Linked DNA regions of Homo sapiens: region 2 is linked to region 1. The links come from fine-mapping of genetic effects on gene expression. A gene starts in region 1. The other region holds a variant in brackets. All regions are shown on one strand. Distances are between the middles of the regions.

The links. PIP is the estimated chance that this variant, and not a neighbour inherited with it, causes the effect.
Region 2: its variant is fine-mapped to the expression of GABRG3-AS1 in spleen (GTEx, PIP above 0.99).

The regions. Positions count from the first base shown.
Region 1 is chr15:27,158,658-27,163,657 of GRCh38, reverse strand. It overlaps GABRG3-AS1 (GABRG3 antisense RNA 1), which reads left to right and starts at 2,339. Exons shown (of 3, transcript NR_120343.1): 1 at 2,339-2,636. All of the region lies in intron 3 of GABRG3 (gamma-aminobutyric acid type A receptor subunit gamma3), which reads right to left.
Region 2 is chr15:27,052,118-27,057,117 of GRCh38, reverse strand. All of the region lies in intron 3 of GABRG3 (gamma-aminobutyric acid type A receptor subunit gamma3), which reads right to left. The region is part of intron 2 of LOC124903449 (a long non-coding RNA gene); the gene reads left to right. Among named protein-coding and RNA genes, the nearest start is that of GABRG3, 83 kb to the right of the region's middle. RefSeq lists an enhancer at 4,305-4,804. The variant C/T (reference allele first, on the strand shown) is at 2,540.

The sequences.
Region 1 (5,000 bases):
AGCACTGACTTATGTATTTATGAGACAGGGTCTCACTGGAGTGCAGTGGCACAATCGTAGGCTCACTGTAACCTCAAATTCCTGGGTTCAACCAATCTTCTGGTCTCGGCCTATTACCTATTTGATCCTAGTAACAGCCCAAGAGATTGCAGCTGTTTTTCTAAAATGAAATGCTCCATGTGATCACATGGAGGTTATGAGATTTGCCTACAATCTTAGTAGGTGACCCCACTCTGGAGCCAGGGCAACAGAGCAAGACCCTATCTATACAAAAAAATAGGAAAATTAGCTGGGCATAGTGACATGTGCCTGCAGTCCTAGCTACTTGGGAGGCTGAGGCTAAGTTGCCCAGGCTGAACACAAGTCCTGCCCTCAAGAAATCCTCCCTCCTTGGTTTTCCAAAGTGTTGGAACTACAGGCATGAGCCACGGTGCCCAGCCTAGATTTAATTTAGAGGGCAGTAGGAGTCTCTGAGGATACTGAGTAGAGATGAGACATGGTGAGAGGTGTATTTCAGCAGAGTTCATCTGGGACCAGGCTTGGTAGGCAGGTGGGTCGGGGGAGCTGAGAGGTAATGTAGGGAGCAGCCACATGGGACACTGAGACTGGCGAGGGCAAGAAGAGGTAGAGTGAAAGTGATGGCCACCAGCCCAGGCTCCAGAGCTGGGTCACCTACTAAGATTGTAGGTGAATCTCGTAACCTCCACGTGATCACGTGGAGCTCTTCATTTTAGAAAAACAGCTGCAGTCCCTTGGGTTGCTACTAAGATCAAATAAGTAAGAGGATTTCAATGTTTTGAATTCTGAAAACAATGATGTTGCCTTACCCTTATGTGTGCAAGCTAATTTTCTGCTGGTCCCTTATCCCAACTGTGAATGCAGAACCCTCATACCTCCTGCCAATGTTTCTTCAGCTCATCAGCTATATCTAGGGGCATCAGAAGATGCTTCACACATGCTAAGGAGCAGGCCCAGTCCAGTCTCTGGCCAGTCATCCTGTGATGCCCATTTTCTTTCCCTATTCCAATTCTAGCAAACCCTAGGTACTCCCTTTTCCATTTGGCGTGTTTCTCCATTGGATACCATTGATATCCATTACTGCCAGGTACTGCACCCGATCTGGCCCCTACCTACCAAGTCAAAAAAGTGCCACTACCATTCCATCTAGCCCAAGAGGACCAAAGCTGCACAGTGGCCAGTGGCACAGGGAGGAGATATTCACTTTATCCTTTTGTACAGACCCATATCTAAGAAGGCCAAAAGTATGGCTGCTTTACCATGTCAATACCTTACCATGATTTCAGTGAAACAGTTTTAGCTTTCCCCTTACCACCTCCTTCTCAGGTACCCAAGGAGTGAACAGAGTACCAAATGCTACACTCAGCGTGATCCCTAACTCTGTGGACCAAAGCTTTGCTAATGAATCAAGTTCACCGTCCTTGGGTTGGGCTCTCTCCCAGGAAATTCCTCAATATGTCATAATATACAATTCTTCCTATATCCTTAATTTTTTCCTAAGCATCCCCAGATATTTTGGGTCAGATGGGACAACTTCAGTACTAGTAAGCTGTAAACAGTCTTAGAGAATCATTATCAGTTTTATTGCATAAATTTTCCCTTCACTTTTATAAATAAAATTATAGTGTATGTGTAAGTTTATTTCTATGCATATATTTTTAAGTTCCTTAAAGACAGGGAGGATATCTTTTATCTTTGTTTCCTTTGAAGAGCCTGTCATTTGGTAGCACACAATAATGGCAGCTGCATTAGGTTTCACATCCTTTAGTTTATAGAAGCTGTGATGTATTAACTACAGTATCACCTTCCTGGTCTTTAAGATTCTGCACATGCTTTAAACTAATTTTTCTAATACGTGTTCCTGTAGCAACTAGATATCAGTATGAAGAGAAAAACATGAACCTTGAACTCCTACCTCATACCACAAGTAAAAATTAATTTGAGGTGAATTACAGACCAAAATGTGAATGCTAATATATTCAAAATGCTAAAGTATTCAAATTTTAAGAAAAAAGCAAATACAAATGTATATGACTTTTAAATAAGCAAATAACTTGTAAATAGGACATCAAAAACACTAAACATAAAAGAAAAAACATTGGCAAGCAAATTTAACTTCTTTAAGAGCTTTTCTTCATCAAAAAGCATCATTAAAAACGTATGCAGACATTGTAAAAGATGGAGGTTTCCTAAGTTCAGGGTTCCTCTGCTGTGGCACAAACTGGTTGGCTGTTTCACACTGCCCCCATGGAACTTGGGGGGCAAGGAGAACAGAGGCAAACATGAAGCTCACAATGCCTGCTGTGACATCAATGCCTACAGTGTAACAATGTCCTTTGTCTCTGACCCAGGCATCTCTTGTCTTCTTCCAGAAACCATGACACTATGGCAGGCCAACTTACTAGCTTTCAAGTAAGGTAACATCTCAGACCATCATAGGTTTTGACAGGGGAAACTCTGAAGGACCACAGGAGTTGGAGGTTCCACGTATCTCTAAGTAGTAACATACGATGGGTCCAAAACAGAAGAAAGAGAACTCAAGATTCCCGAGCCACAGAGCTGTTGATTGGAGGCTGACTCAGAGAAACCCTGGATTCAGTGACATACAGAGACAACAGGTGGGTGCACCAGCCCCTTTCCTTGACAGGCTCCCAGCATTTTGTCTGTAGGTTTGCAACTTCCCAGGCAACAATAGAAAAAAAAAAATCTTCCATCTGAGGAAATTAACAAGCCAAAGTAAAAAGACCTGGAAATACTAACAAGCAGTACTTCTCTGAAATTCCCAGTTTTCATCCTAATATGAGGCCCATAGAGAACTTCCAACCAGCCAGGAGTGCTTCATATCTACTTATTCATGAGAGGCCAGTAGGGAAATGCTCTATCATGAATGATGTACTCCAAAACAAACAGAAGCAATGTGAGACCAGAAGAAAACTTCCAGAAACTATGGTTAAGATCCTCCAAAAGAAAAAAAAAAAGTTACTGGTTCATTGAAATAACAGGAGGATGCTGTAAAAAAGAAACATCCTAAGTATTAGAAAGATCCTTCAGAAATTAAAAAAAAATCAGTAGTTGGAAGGTAAATTTGAAGGGATTTCCCAAAAACTAGCATAAAACCAAACAGAGAAGTCTTATAAAAGAGAAAAGTAATAAAAGAATTATCAAAGAAATAATACCAAACAATCTCAATAATCAAATGACTTTACATATAGTTAAGACTTGCCTAGTCCATGGCATATGAAAAGAAAATCAGAAATACTACCATTTGAAATTCCAGAATAAAAGGGGGAAGACCTTTCTGGTTGTGGCTGAGGATAAAGGGGGTTGGGGCAAGAAGCAGCTCACAATCAGACTGACCTAAGGAAAGATGGCCCAGAACTCACCCACAAGCAGTGGATCTATGTTTGCACAACTCTCAGGGGAAATTATTTTCTACCCATTCACAAAGTTACCTTCCATGCAACATTCCTCAGAAGATTCCTGGAGAATATTCTCCACCAAAGTAAGGAAGCAGAATGACCAAGACTGGGAAGATCTGGTGGGGAACCAGGGAGTCCACCCAGGAAAGAGCAGGAGGGTCTTGCAGTATGACAGTGAGGGGTTCAGGTGGGCCACTGTGGCAGGCAGCCCTGTGGGAATGGGAGGGAGGGTAATCTGAGTCTGTGGCCATGGAGGTTGGCTAAAGCCTTCCAACCCATGGAGAGGGCTGTGTGCTTCCATCACAGCTGCCAACAAAACACTACAGTGCTTGGATGTCAGACATTATTTTCTTTTAAAGGGACTTAATCGCCTTCTGGACAAACATAATCTATGCGACCTCCTCCCCATAAGGTAAGCAGGTCACACTAGGACATTCTGCAAAGTTCAGTAATTACATGACTGTAACATTGTAAGCAGGGAATGTGTATCTGACCAAATCTTGGTTCATGATTGTTTTGGAAGGTGAGCGGGGGAACAAAAGGGGAAAATGGGTAGAGTGTAAGACAGGGAAAGTCTAGCGTTTCCAGGAGGCATCAATGTAGCTGAGAACGAATAATCAAATGTTCATATAAGGATATTACTAGGAACATGATGGAAAATAAGAGAAGAAATCCCTTAAAGAATGGAAAATGAACCCAGGTTCAGGCAGGATGGAGGGAGCTGCACTTTTTTTTTTTTAAGATGGAGTCTCACTCTATTGCCCAGGCTGAAGTGCAGTGGCGCAATCTCGGATCACTGCAATCTCCACCTCCCAGGTTCAAGCGATTCTCATGCCTCAGTCTCCCCAGTAGCTGGGATTACAGGTGCGCACCAGCACACTTGGCCAAATTTTGTAATTTTAGTAGAGATGGGGTTTTGCCATGTTGGTCAGATTGGTCTTGAACTCCTGAGCTCAAGTGATTCACCTGCCTCGTACTTCCAAAGTGCTGGGATTATAGGCGTGAACCACCATGCCCGGCCTGTATTTTTCTTTTTGAGTCTTTTAGTATTATCTTATTCTTTTAACCATAAAAATTAAATTGCTTAGATAAATATAAGTTTTATAGCAGAACATGGAGGAGGAGGGCGTGGAGGAAGAGGGAGGAGAAAATAAAAAATAAAGTCCTTTGTAGGTGCCATAAGCAAAGTGAGCGGTTTGGAGAGAACACTGTACATGACTTCCTGACTACAATGGCCTGTGGCTGATGAAGTACAGCACTTTGGTGGAAACAGGTGGGCAGTGTGTGTGGGTGAGGAATATGATGGCTTTAAAGACAACATCTTTCAAACTAGAGTGAAATGAGAGACCATTCTCTAAATAAATATTCAGGTGGTAATTTGCCATACGAAAAATTTCAGCTGTAAGATGTGTTCACCTAATAAGGAGGTATTCCCCACATGACATGGTTTATCATGGAAATAGTGAAGGTTTTATTTTTCCTTTTTTAATATTTGACAATAATGCCATTTATTTGTTATTAAATTTTTAACTTAGCTACATAGCAGTTTATTCTAACCCTTGG
Region 2 (5,000 bases), 110 kb after region 1:
GGGCTGGGGTTAGGGGTTCTGGCCACTGTTGGAAGGTTTATTTCTCCACCTGGACAATGGACATGAGAGCAATGTTTACTCCACACCCTGTCTCTGAATCCTTCCCTTGATAATAAGCAGGGAAGAGTATAGAGTCTGAACAAGAGGAGATAGGAGACAGGGACAATATTTTTCATTAAGGAGGACCCAAGCACACACTGCACACAGAGGAACTAGATGATGAGAAGGTGCTTTTTCCCGATCACAGTCTTGGGTCTCAAGAGAAATCAGTGAAGAATCCAGAATAGTGTGCTGGAGCCATTCTTAAAAAGCTACCCTACAAACGAGTTCCATTTATTGCAGAATAAATCAACAACTTTAATGAAAACGCTCATCCACCACCTCTCCCATCCTCACGTCCACTGGTTTTCTGTTTGCAGTGGAAGCCACCGTGGGGGGTCTTGTGAACTTCCCATTCAGTCTGAGCTTGGAGCACCAACAGCAGGATCTGAGCTCCTTCCGGCGGAGGCTTCTCACAAACGCTCTCCACACACCCCAGTTTCATTCTCCCACCAACACTGGACAACACTTCTCACTTTCTTTCCACAGCTTTTTCCAGCACTGCATGATCACTTTTAGAACATTCTTGCAAATTCTCAGGCTGGTTGTCTGGTGTTAATTTTCATTTCAGGACCTAAAACCATGCCTGACTCAAACAACGGGTTCAATATCTCAATATGTATGTTTATTTTCTTTTTTCTTTTCTTTTTTTTTTTTTTTTTTTTGGAGACAGGGTCTCACTCTGTCAACCAGGCTGGAGTGCAGTGGCACAATCACAGCTCACTGCGGCCTCAGTTCCCCCCAGGCTCAAGTGATCCTCCCACCTCAGCCTCCCAAGTAGCTGGGACTACAGGTGTGTACCACCACACCTGGCTCATTATTTTGCATTTTTTGTAGACATGGGTTTTCTCCATGTTGCCCAGGCTGATCTCGAACTCCTGGACTCAAGTAACCCACCACCTCAGCCTCCCAAAGTGCTAGGATTACAGGCTTGAGCCACTGCACCCAGCCTGTACATTTATTTTCTGTTTGTGACTATTTGTGATTTTTCTCCTCCTGCAAATTTTTAAAAAATATTACCTTGAGTTGATCACTGCAGAATGTATACATGTATCAAAGTGTCACATTGTACCTCATCAATATGTGCATTTATTATTTGCCAATTAAAATAATATAAAACTCTTTAAAAATTAAAAACCATATATTTCCCTAGTATTTCTGGGATGATTTTTTTTTCTCAATGACTTTTGAGAATGCTTTTGCTTTGTTCTCAAACCTTTGATAATCTCCATCATTACTGGTTGGGTATCCCTTATCTGAAATGCATGGGACCAGAAGTGTTTCAGATCTCAGATTATTTCATATTTGAAAATATTTCCATACAGATAATGAAATATCTTAATAATGGAAACCAAGTATAAACAGGAATTCATTTATGTTTCATACACACCTTATGCATGTAGCCTGAAGGTAATTTTATTATTCCTATGGGAACGCTGAAAACACCGTGTGTTCTGCGCCAGCGTTTGACTGTGACCTGCCATGTGAGGTCAGGTGTGGGATTTTCTATTTGTCGCATTAGGTCAGTGCTCACAAAGCTTTGGATTTTGGAGCCTTCTGGATTTCCGATTTTCAGATTTGGGATGCTCCGCCTGTATCTAAGTCTTCCATTATCTCCTTTTGACTTCCTAAATAAATACTTATAACATTAGCAAATAATGATAGCTTTAGAACTAATTTCCCCGAGTTACAGATGTAACAAGTTCAGGTTATTTTTTTGTACTGATTGGTCTTTCCATCCTTCTTAAGATGTTACGGGGTGAAAGCCCGGGACGTGCTAGCAAGCTGCTCCGGTGCGGGACACAGAGTCTCTATCACAGGCTGCTCCGGTGCGGGACGCGGAGCCTCTATCACAGGCTGCTCTGGTGTGGGACACGGAGTCTCTATTACACAGCCTTCTTTTGTTTGGGGGGCTAGTTGTTGTTGCTGCTGCTGCTGTTTTTCACAATCCTTTAAGAATGTAAAGACTATTATTAGCTGACAAGTCATTTAAAAAAAAAAAAAAAAAAAAACAGGTCTTGGCCCTTGGGCTGTAACTTACAAACTTTGCCCAGTTTCACTCTCAGGTTTGACGCTCTTGCTTTGTGGCTGACAACCATTCCACCAAGGGTCCACTCAGAGTCCCCCTCAAAACGAGGACAGTAACTTAGACTTTTGTAGTCGATCTTAATAAAGACAGGTAGTTCCCCGCTGGTCTCAGGGCTTCAGTGTGGTGCACAGCAGCTGTTCCTCCCCGCTCGATACAGAGCTCATCTCACAACCTGAAGCCCCCGGATCTGCTGAGTGTCCTTTCAGAGTAATAGCTGCTTTTGAAGCACCGTCCCTGGCATCAAGACTGATCTGTATCCATTCCATCTGACGGATCTGCAGCTCTGCGTTGTCCTGGCCAGTTTTCTGTATGGGAGTCAGGGCGGCACCACAAAATAAACGGATGCATTTC[C/T]GCCTTTCTTGTAACACTCAGTCAAGTCTTACAGCCTTGGGAATGTTGCTTCTGAAAAACGTGACTTTGGCTCTGGAACCTGTTTTGGAGGAAATTCTTTGATAACTTTTACAGTTTTTTCCAGTGTTGCTTATTTCCTTCTTCCTTGTTTATTTCTATTTTTATTTTAGATTCAGGGGGTACACGTGCAGGTTTGTTCCCTGGATATGTTTCGTGATGCTGAGGTTTGGGCTTTGATCGGTCCCATCTCCCAGGTAGTGAGCACAGAACCCAACAGGCAGTTTTTCAGTCCTTGGCCCCCTCACACCCTCCCTCCTTTTTTCTTTTTTTTTTTCTTTTTGAGATAGAGTTTGGCTCTTTCGCCCAGGCTGGAGTATAGTGGTGCGATCTCGGCTCACTGCAACCTCCGCCTCCCGGGCTCAAGGGATTCTCCCACCTCAGCCTCCTGAGTAGCTGGGATTACAGGTGCGTGCTATTTTTTTTAGTAGAGATGGGGTTTCACCAGGTTAGCCAGGCTGGTCTCGAACTCCTGACCTCAGGTGATCCACCTGCCTTAGTCAAAGTGCAGGGATTAGAGGCGTGAGCCGCCACACCCGGCCCCTCCCTCCTTTTGAAGTCCCCAGTGTCTATTCCCATCTTTATGTCCATGTGTATCCAAAATTTAGCTTCCACTTATAAGTGATGACATGCAGTATTTCATTTTTGTTTCTGCATTAATTCACTTAGGATCACGGCCTCCACCTTCCCATCCATGTAGCTGCAAAGGATATGCCTTCATTCTTTCTTAATGGCTGCGCGGTATTTCACGGTGTATATTTACACATTTTCTTTTTTCTGTCACCATTTATGGGCACTTTGGTTCATTCCATGTCTTTGCTATTGTGAATAGTGGTGCAGTGAACATACAAGTGCATATGTCGTTTTGGTAGAATGATTTATTTTCCACTGGGTATATACTAGGTAATGGGATTGCTAGTTCTGTTTTTACTTCTTTGAGAAATCTCCAAAATGCTCTCCACAATGGCTGAACCAATTTACCTTCTCACCAACAGTGTATAAGTGTTCCATTTTCTCTGCAGCCTCTCCAACCCTGCTGGCTTTTAACTTTTTAGTAATAACTATTCTGACTGGCGTGAGATGGTGTCTCACTGTGGTTTTGATTTGCAATTCTCTGACGGTTAGTGATGTTGAGGATTTTTTCATTTGTTGGTCACTTGTATGTCTTCTTTTGAGAAGTATCTGTCCATGTCCTTTACTCACTTTCTAGTGGGGTTATTTGTTTTTGTTTGTTGATTTAAGTTAGTTATAGATTCTGGACATTAGGCCTCTATTAGAAGCATAGTGAATATTTTCTCCCATTCTGTGGGTTGTTGATAGTTTCTGTTGCTGTACAGAAGTTCTTTAGTTATTTGGTCCCACTGTCAATTTTTGTTTTTGTTGCAATTGCTTTTGAGGACTTAGCCATAAATTCTTTGCCAAGGCCAATATCCAGAAGGGTATTTCCTAGGTTTTCTTCTAGGATTTTGTTATTTTGATGTCTTACATTTAAGCCTTTAATCCGCCTTGAGTTAATTTTTGTATATGGTGATATGTAGGGTCCAGTTTCATTCTTCCGCATGTGGCTAGCCTGTTTTCCCAGCACTATTTACTGAACAGAGAGTCCTTTCCCTATTGCTTATTTTTATCAATTTTATCAAAGATCATCTGGTTGCATGTGTGTTGCTTTATTTCTGGGTTATCTACTCTATTCCACTTGTCCGTATGTCTGTTTTTGTGCCAGTACCATGCTATTTTGGTTAATGTAGTCTTGCAGTATAGTATGAAATTGTGTTTCCCTCTTCTTTTGATCCAGGTTAATCTTTCCCCCAAATTGTCCACTGTATCTAGACTTTTTAAACTATGAGCATAGCTCTACATTAGGTATTTTAATCATCTGCTGATCCATTTGCTGAATCTTCTTGCTCATTTATTTTTGTTTGTCTTGATACTAGATTTCGTGTGTTTTAGAAGCAGCAGGAGGGAAGTGGCCTGCCATCATGCACCCTCACAGGCACTGTGGCACTTCTTTTGTCAAGGAGTTACAGGAGGAATGAAGGGCCTTATGCTTAGATTTTCTGTGATTCTCCAGGCCTAACACTCCACATTGGCCCACAGAATGCCAAGTTTTTCTACCACCTGTGCCACACGCCGAGGCCCCACTGGCCACTGGCTATGGTGCCACCACCTGAGGGCTGAGTCCTTTCTCTGATCTGGTCACCATTTGCGGCACGGGAGTGACAGCACCCCCCCAAGGTGATCAGAGGTGTTGTGATCAACGTAACTCAGCACTCTCAAGAGACAAAGACAGACCAGTCCCCACCAGAAATTTCATGGGGGTGGGACAGAGAACACACCATCCTTCTACCAGACATGGCATTCTTCCTCTTAGATCAGGGGGCCCCAACGCCCGATCTGTGGCCGG